3 separate regions of the Homo sapiens genome follow, and regions 1 and 2 are each linked to region 3. The links come from fine-mapping of genetic effects on gene expression. A gene starts in region 3. Each other region holds a variant in brackets. All regions are shown on one strand. Distances are from middle to middle. Region 1 overlaps TRAPPC3L (trafficking protein particle complex subunit 3L). Region 2 overlaps TRAPPC3L (trafficking protein particle complex subunit 3L). Region 3 holds the start of RWDD1 (RWD domain containing 1).

Region 1 (2,500 bases), 40 kb before region 3:
GAGATTTTAACCAAGTGAAGGGCAGAGATTGAATGAAAATAAACAGGTTCCAGGTCTTTTATTTTATGGCCCCCAGGCTGCATTTCTGAGCCTATACCATAAAGTAAGTTGTGTGTAAGAGGAGTGTGTGCGGAAGAGGGTTGAGGAATGGAAAGCAACTCTAAAACTGAGTTTTACATATTCATCCTAGTAAAAGAAAGAACATTCAGAGGACAGGAAAAAAAATGCCTCCCCATTTTATGCACAGCATTATGATGGCAGCAAAATTCAAGTGTTGTGCATCATACTGGGTGCATTACATCTAGACTTAGACCCAGAATTGTGAAATATGGTGACTTTTAGAGAAGTATTTGTTTTTAAGATGCATGTTATTTAGAAAATGAAGGAAGCCAAATATAATTAGAAAAAAAAAGCAAAGTAAGTAAAATACAGAAGCATAAGGAACAAACCACCCCCCCTCCTTTTTAAGAAAAAGGAAAAAACAGCCTAAGATATGTTACTGTCTCTGACTTGAATGCCCTGGTTTAAGTTCATTTCATCTGGGCACTTTTCCTATTCACATTAAAAATCAGATTGTCTCTGCTAACATTCTTTGAAAAAAGAAAACACACAGAATGTCAAGAGAAAGGACTGAAAAAGACTTAGAAAAAAGAGTAACAAAAGAAAAAGCCCCACAGGATTAGATGACCAGAGCAAACTTTTGTAATTGGTTCCTTTATAAGAAGTTCAAAGGGAAACCTAATACTACCTATTGTAGCACAACATCATTTTTCTTTGGAGAATTTAGTTATCTCCCTTCTACCAAAGCGTTCCTCTGAGCTCACTGTTCTGAATAATGTCTGCCCCACTCTTGCTAATGGTCTAAAATATTTACTTTGCATTAACAATGTGGTTTCACTTGACTGCTTCCAAGTGCAGAGTCATTTTATTTTGAAGTGTTTGCTTTCTTTATTATTATCTGCAAATGTATAACAAAGA[C/A]AGTTTTGTCTACTTCAATACCTTACAGTTAGCATACTAAATGGAGTCTGCAACACTAGTTACGTGCCCCAAATTCTAGCTCTGAAACAAAGAAAAACAAACACCAGCATCAGTAACATAAATAATGTGAGCAGAAGGTTCATAGATAAAGTGAGACTCATATATATATATATATATATATATATATATATATATATATATGTTACTAATTTCCTAGACAAGAAGAACAAGATATTTGTCAATTACTTTGCCCTGTTTTGGAAAATCTTGGAATGTTTTTCATACCCAGATTCCCTTCCTGAGGGGCTCCCTATGATCACCATGTTCTATCTAATTATCCTGCCATTCTGGCCACAGTTAATGGATTAGGGTGGGCATTGTGAGCCTGGACAGTCAGTTCATAGCTTGGCTAGAGCCCTGGAAGTGACCTAGCATGAAACTCTACTTAACACAGGGCTAGTGATTGGCTGGACAGGTTAAAGACTCTCTTTTTGGGACTTTAAATATGAAACACATAGAGAAAGTCACAGTTTGGGTGATTGGGCAGAATGCAAATGACACCCAGAGAAAAGAGAGTAAGCAGAAGCCATGAGGCAACAAAAACTGTGAAACACCAGAAGCAGTGAGGTGGAGAGAAGGAAAAGAAAAATGGAAAGATATTAGTAGGTAATTATAAGAGCAGAACAAGCAGAGAAGGGTTGAGTCATGAAAATGGCACAGGACTGAAGTAGAGAACCACAAAGACTTGCTGCTGAGGGTTCAAGATAGACTAAAACTGTAAGGATTTTCCCATTTTGGTTCTTTCATGGGGTCTGATTATCGTGTCCCAGAATATCTCTACAATAAACCCTAAAGGTCTGACATAAACCAAATGCTGGTAACCTAAAGGAGTCTACCTAACACAATTTGGCTCCATGATGAATTTTAGGATAATTTTCAAGCATTTTCCATAATAATATGAAATGCACTATGTAATGATTTGGTTACCTACTTAATATTTGCATTTTAAATCACAGTTGACCTCAGAGTAGCAGAATGAATATCCCTCTTCTGAAACCTTCTACACTCATATAATAAATAATGGAAAAAACAATAATAAATATACAATTTAATATAATTAAAATTTATTTATATTTAATTTATATTTAATTTTAAAATATAATATAATAAACAATAATGGAAAAAACAAATGTTTCAATAAAATTACCAAGTTGAGTTCGCTGTCATTATTTAATAAGAATCAGTTATTGTCCTGTTCAGGATCCTACCGCAGTTTAAATCTTGTTGCTGTGGATTTGTTATTGTGAACAACCAGGTACTTTTAGAGCACTGATTTTCAGTGTAATGAAAATTGCTTGAAATAAGAGGGCTGCTTCTGCATGTAGTGTTAGTATTGAGCAGACAGGGTAGGAGTCTTTCATTTAAAGACAAATGTGGAGCACTGCCCTCTTCTGGACAGACTAGGAGGAGCAACAGGGTGTAGATGTGAAAAGTTCTTCTAGTATTTTCTCTCTTTTTTGTC
Region 2 (2,500 bases), 70 kb before region 3:
CAGGAACTTCATGAAGCTTCCTGCCAACTGCCAGCAAGGCACTGGGGCTGTGTGAGTGAGCTTGGAAGTAGATTCTCCAGCCTCAGTCAAGTCGCCAGAGGTTGCAGCCCTGGCCAGCAGCTTGACTGCATGTGTATTAAGCCATGAAAGACTCTGAATGACAACCACTTAGCTAAGCTGCTCCCAGATTTCTGATCCTCAGAAACTGTGTGAGATAATAAACGTTTGTTTTTTTAAGCTGCTACATTTTGGGGGTAATTTGTAACACACCATTAGATAACCAATATACCCAGCAAAATGAATTATGTATATTGGTTATCTTATTTTAGCCTTAGAAGGACTAAGAGATTCTTCATTCATTCTTCACTTATTCAACTTTACCATTTCCAAGGCACCTCTGATAATCCCACAGAGCAAGTTGCAGTAGCACAGAGAAGATCGCCCAGCAGGGAGCTCTTCCACAAACTCCACCAGGGGATTCTTCTCTAGAATCAGGGAAAATTCATTTTTGCTTGAATTGTTACAGGTCACACTTGGTGTAATTCCCAGGTACATCTTGAAAGCAACCTGATAAGAAAAAAACAAAATTACTAAAACTTGGTCTAGAACAAATAACTATGAGCAGACTAAACAAATACCCAGTTCTAGGCATTGCAGCACAATGGTTAAGCACATGGAGTCTATAGTCAGGAAGTCCGGCTTCACCCTTAGCTTTGCAATTTATTGATCCTATGATGTGAAATTTTTAAATATTTTTACTTGTGAGTCACTTCCAAGATTGTCAAATAGGAACAGCTCTAGTCTATAGCTCCCAGTGAGATCAATGGAGAAGATGGGTAATTTCTGCATTTCCAACTGAGGTACCTGGTTCATCTCACTGGGACTGGTTGGACAGTGGGTGTGGCCCATGGAGAGTGAGCCGAAGCAGGGCAGGGCATCGCCTCATGTGGGAAGTGCAAGGGATCAGGGAATTTCCCTTTCCTAGCCAAGGGAAGCCATGAGTAACTGTACTTGGAGGAACTGTACACTTCTGCCCAAATACTGAGCTTTTCTCACAGTCTTCGCATCTGCAGGAACAGGAGATTCCCTCCCGAGCCTGTGACTGGCTCAGCAGGTCCCACGCCCATGGAGCCTTGCTCACTGCTAGCACAGAAGCCTGAGATCGACCTGAGATGCTGAAGCTTGG[C/T]GGGGGGAGGGGTGTCTGCCATTGCTGAGGTTTGAGTAGGCGGTTCTATGCTCACAGTGTAAACAAAAAGGCAGGGAAGATTGAACTGGGTGGAGCCCACCGCAGCACAGCAAGGCCTACTGCCTCCTTAGATTCCACCTCTGGGGGCAGGGCATATCTGAACAAAAGTCAGCAGAAAACTTCTGCACACTTAAACGTTCCTGCCTGACAGCTCTGAAGAGAGCAGTGGTTCTTCCAGCATGGTGTTTGAGCTCCGATAACAGACAGACTGCTTCCTCAAGTGGGTCCATGACCCCCATGTAGCCTGACTGGGAGACATCTCCCCGTGGGAGCTGACAGACACCTCATACAGGCAGGTGCCCCTCTGGGACAAAGCTTCCAGAGGAAGGATCAGGCAGCAATTATCTGCTGTTCTGCAGCCTCCGCTGGTGATACCCAGGCAAACAGAGTCTGGAGTGGACCTCCAGAAAACTCCAACAGACCTGCAGCTGAGGTGCCTGTCTGTTAGAAGGAAAACTAACGAACAGAAAGGAATAGCATCAACATCAACAAAAAGGACATCCACACCAAACCCCATCCATAGGTCACCAACATCAAAGACCAAAGGTAGATAAAACCACAAACATGGGGAGAAACCAGAGCAGAAAAGCTGAAAATTCCAAAAACCAGAACACCTCTTCTCCTCCAAAAGAACACAACTCTTTGCCAGCAAGGGAACAAAACTGGATAGAGAATGAATTTGACAAGTTGACAGAAGTAGGCTTCAGAGGTCAGTAATAACAAACTTCTCCGAGCTAAAGAAGCACATTCTAATCCATTGCAAGGAAGGTAAAAACCTTGAAAAAAGGTTAGACGAATGGCTAACTAGAATAACCAGTGTAGAGAAGAGCTTAAATGACCTGATGGAGCTGAAAACCACAGTACAAGAACTTCATGAAGCATACACAAGCTTCAATAGCTGATTCGATCAAGTGGAAAAAAGGATATCAGTGACTGAAGATCAAATTGATGAAATAAAGTGAGAAGGCAAGATTAGAGAAAAAAGGGTGAAAAGAAATGAACAAAGCCTCCAAGAAATATGGGACTATGTGAAAAGACCAAATCTACATTTGATCAGTGTACCTGAAAGTGACGGGGAGAATGGAACCAAGTTAGAAAACACTCTTCAGGATATTATCCAGGAGAACTTCCCCAACCTAGCAAGGCAGGTCAGCATTCAAATTCAGGAAATACAGAGAACACCACAAAGATACTCCTCAAGAAGATCAACCCCAAGACACATAATTGTCAGATTCACCAAGGTTGAAATGAAGG
Region 3 (2,853 bases):
TAAAGATGTAATGCCACCTTCCTTGCCAAATTTGATTCTGTCTTCCTCACTTATTTTGGTCAACAGAACTTCGTCTTTCCAGTTCTTCCAGCCAAAAATCATCCTTGACTCCCCACTTAGGACTTAATGCACTAGCTGTTTCCTCTGGCAGCTCTTTCCTCATAATAAATCAGTATAATTCCTCTGAACTGAGGCGATCCAAAAAAAATGAGCAACTTATACTTGCAAAGTTACTTTATGTATTTTATTTGATTGTCATCATAGTTAGGAGACTCCACTTTTTCATTAAAGTTTAAAAGAACGCCTGAAATCAACCCTTAATACCGTAAACACGGAATCAGTATCAAAGTGTTCCTCTGCTATAGGTAAGCAGCACTCCTCAATAAAAGATCAAGGTGCCTTCTGGTGCTTCAGGGGCTTCATCATTAGGAATCTTTCATTTAAAAAGTGTTCCTCCCACTATACCAGTGAAACCAGCTTTAATACAGAGAAATCAAAACAAAGAAAAATACAGAAAAGTGGGCAACAGCTTTTGAGTATTTTCTTAAAATTTTCCATTTTTCGACTTAGCGCAATAATATAATAAAGGAACATGGGATCCTTTATTATTGTTACCATAGTTTTTAATATCATTTTCATAAAGCTAACCATGTTTATTTAGCCATTTTCTTAGCTTTTGCCATCATGGTTCTTTGAAAATTTTCTTTGTAATTGCTGCAATGATTTTGGAGATCACAGATGCATGCTACTTGCTCAAGTTTATTCTTGGAAGTCGTATTACCAAATTAAAGGTTCTCAACATTTCTCGGGGTACTGCAATTTTTACATTGCATATGATAATTGTTATTACTGAGATCTACATTCCTTTCATCAATTCACAAATACACAATCACAGACATCTTGAGATCTATCATACGTCCAGCTGCGTTCATTTCACAAAATCAGAAGTTAAGCCTAAAGATCTGAACCGAGAAGCCGGACCTCCGGTCTATTTCTCCCTCCTGGATCCACCCCGACTTATTAAGCAGTTAGACCGACCCTTCCATACTCATTCAAGGCAGTGCAGAGCTTTTGCTCCCCTGCCCAGTGGAATCTACACTGGTCCCAGCCTCTCGTCCAACTCCCGTAGGACGCCAAGCAATACGGAGTTCGAGAAGCTCAGAAATCTCCTGAGCCCCACCAGTCCACACTAGGTTGCAAGCCCGCAGCACCTACGCCACGGCGTCAAACCGGAAACCAGAAAAGGTGAAGGCATCGGACGCCCCTCGCCCCAGCCCGGCCACCAGCGACACTATCCTTCACTGACGCGCGATGCCGGCCTTTCAGCCCAGACTCATCGAGCGAGGATGCAGCGCTGAGAGGCTTCTAAGGCTCAGGCCCTGCAAAGCCCAGGAGCCGGCTGTAGGTGTCCTTGGCGAATGCCAGACCGCGCGCACCGTCCCAGCAAGTCCCGAGCGAGTGTGGGACAGGCAGCAAATCAGTGCCCCCTGGCCAGGCAGAACGAGTCGAACGTGGAAGTAGGGAGCAGGCGGAGGCCGGCGCGGAGCTGCAGTTAAGCAAGCCGGGTCTGGCTTTGGGCCCTGGGCCTTCCAGCCGGGGACTCTGCGCCTGCGCCCGCCTGGCCGCCGCCCGCTCTCCCGGCGCGGCAGCTGTCTGGGCTGCTGCGCGCCGCCTAGGTGTCTGGGCGATCTATGGGCAAGAGCAAGGGCCACGATGACAGATTACGGCGAGGAGCAGCGCAACGAGCTGGAGGCCCTGGAGTCCATCTACCCTGACTCCTTCACAGGTGACTCCCGCGGCCGCAAGCCTGTAGCCGCCCCGAGGTGGAGTAGGACGGGCAGGAGCTGCCGCAGCTCTGGGCCTCATAGGTTGGGGTGGAGAAGGGGACCTTGAGGCCGCGCGGCCACCTTGCCCTCCACTCCTCAAGTTCTTCAGTCACTTACCAGCAACCCAGTGACTTTTTCTCCTTCTCTGCTTGTTCCCGGAAATCTAAAAGTCCGGGTGATGTTGGAGGGTGTCAGGCCTGAAAATTGAGTCGGGATTACTTTGGTTTCTGTGTAACCTACAGCAACCTGAGATTTATAATACATTAAGAGAAAAAATACTCCAAGTGCGATTCGTTTTTCCACAGCCGCAAGAATGTTAGTTTTCACATTTTTAGCTTTATTAAGGTAGAAACTGTTTTTCATACGATGCTGTTTTAGTTTATAGGATTCAGAGTGCTGTTTTCAGTTACTCAAATCGGTTTTGAGAGTAGCATAGTCCCTGAAGTCTGTCGGGTTTCTTTTCTTATGAAAAAAAAAAAAATCTGGCATTCAGCAGAATGCCTAATGGATAATGTGGCCCAAATTTCCGTTCTGCTATAAATTCATAGGTTGTTAGATTGGAAGGGAGATTAAACATCATCTATCCTGGGGCTCCTGCTCCAAGCCAAGGTCATGGGGGTTCAGGAAAGCTAAGTGGCTTGCTCTGTACTGTCCGCCAGCGAGTTAGCGGCAGGGCTGGTACTGAGTTATACGTCCAGAACGCTTGCCTGTTCTTTCACTTTCCAGACATATGGGACTTGGGATTCAGCTCCAGCTGAGATTGAGAGAGCAGAAGATTACTTGGTAGGTTGGGCTAATGTAAAATATTATAATGAGAAGTTCATTAGGTATAATTTAGAGGACGAGATTTCTCTATTAAGCCATGCTTCGGATGATTATAAAAATGCTACATAACTATATCAATATGGCTCCTCTGAGATTTGAGAAGCGGTCAAATAAAGCCAATATGAGTGAGTAGAACCTAGGTGTGTGCATTTACATTCCCCATCCTTTCCTTTGAGTGTTGCCTATCGTTGATAGTCAGAAT

Evidence for each region. PIP is the estimated chance that this variant, and not a neighbour inherited with it, causes the effect. A credible set is the group of variants that fine-mapping cannot tell apart.
Region 1: its variant is the best candidate, but not a certain one, in a credible set for the expression of RWDD1 in monocytes (TOPMed, PIP 0.52).
Region 2: its variant is the best candidate, but not a certain one, in a credible set for the expression of RWDD1 in skeletal muscle (GTEx, PIP 0.56).

Annotation. Positions count from the first base shown.
Region 1 is chr6:116,529,766-116,532,265 of GRCh38, forward strand. All of the region lies in intron 3 of TRAPPC3L (trafficking protein particle complex subunit 3L), which reads right to left. It also overlaps a transcript of CALHM4 not described here. Among named protein-coding and RNA genes, the nearest start is that of TRAPPC3L, 15 kb to the right of the region's middle. The variant C/A (reference allele first, on the strand shown) is at 979.
Region 2 is chr6:116,500,100-116,502,599 of GRCh38, forward strand. TRAPPC3L (trafficking protein particle complex subunit 3L) reads right to left here. Exons shown (of 5, transcript NM_001139444.3): 4 at 382-567. Among named protein-coding and RNA genes, the nearest start is that of CALHM5, 10 kb to the right of the region's middle. The variant C/T (reference allele first, on the strand shown) is at 1,187.
Region 3 is chr6:116,569,870-116,572,722 of GRCh38, forward strand. It overlaps RWDD1 (RWD domain containing 1), which reads left to right and starts at 1,635. Exons shown (of 7, transcript NM_015952.4): 1 at 1,635-1,786. The coding sequence starts at 1,714. RefSeq lists enhancers at 1,030-1,209, 1,240-1,569, 1,790-1,889 and a silencer at 1,610-1,689.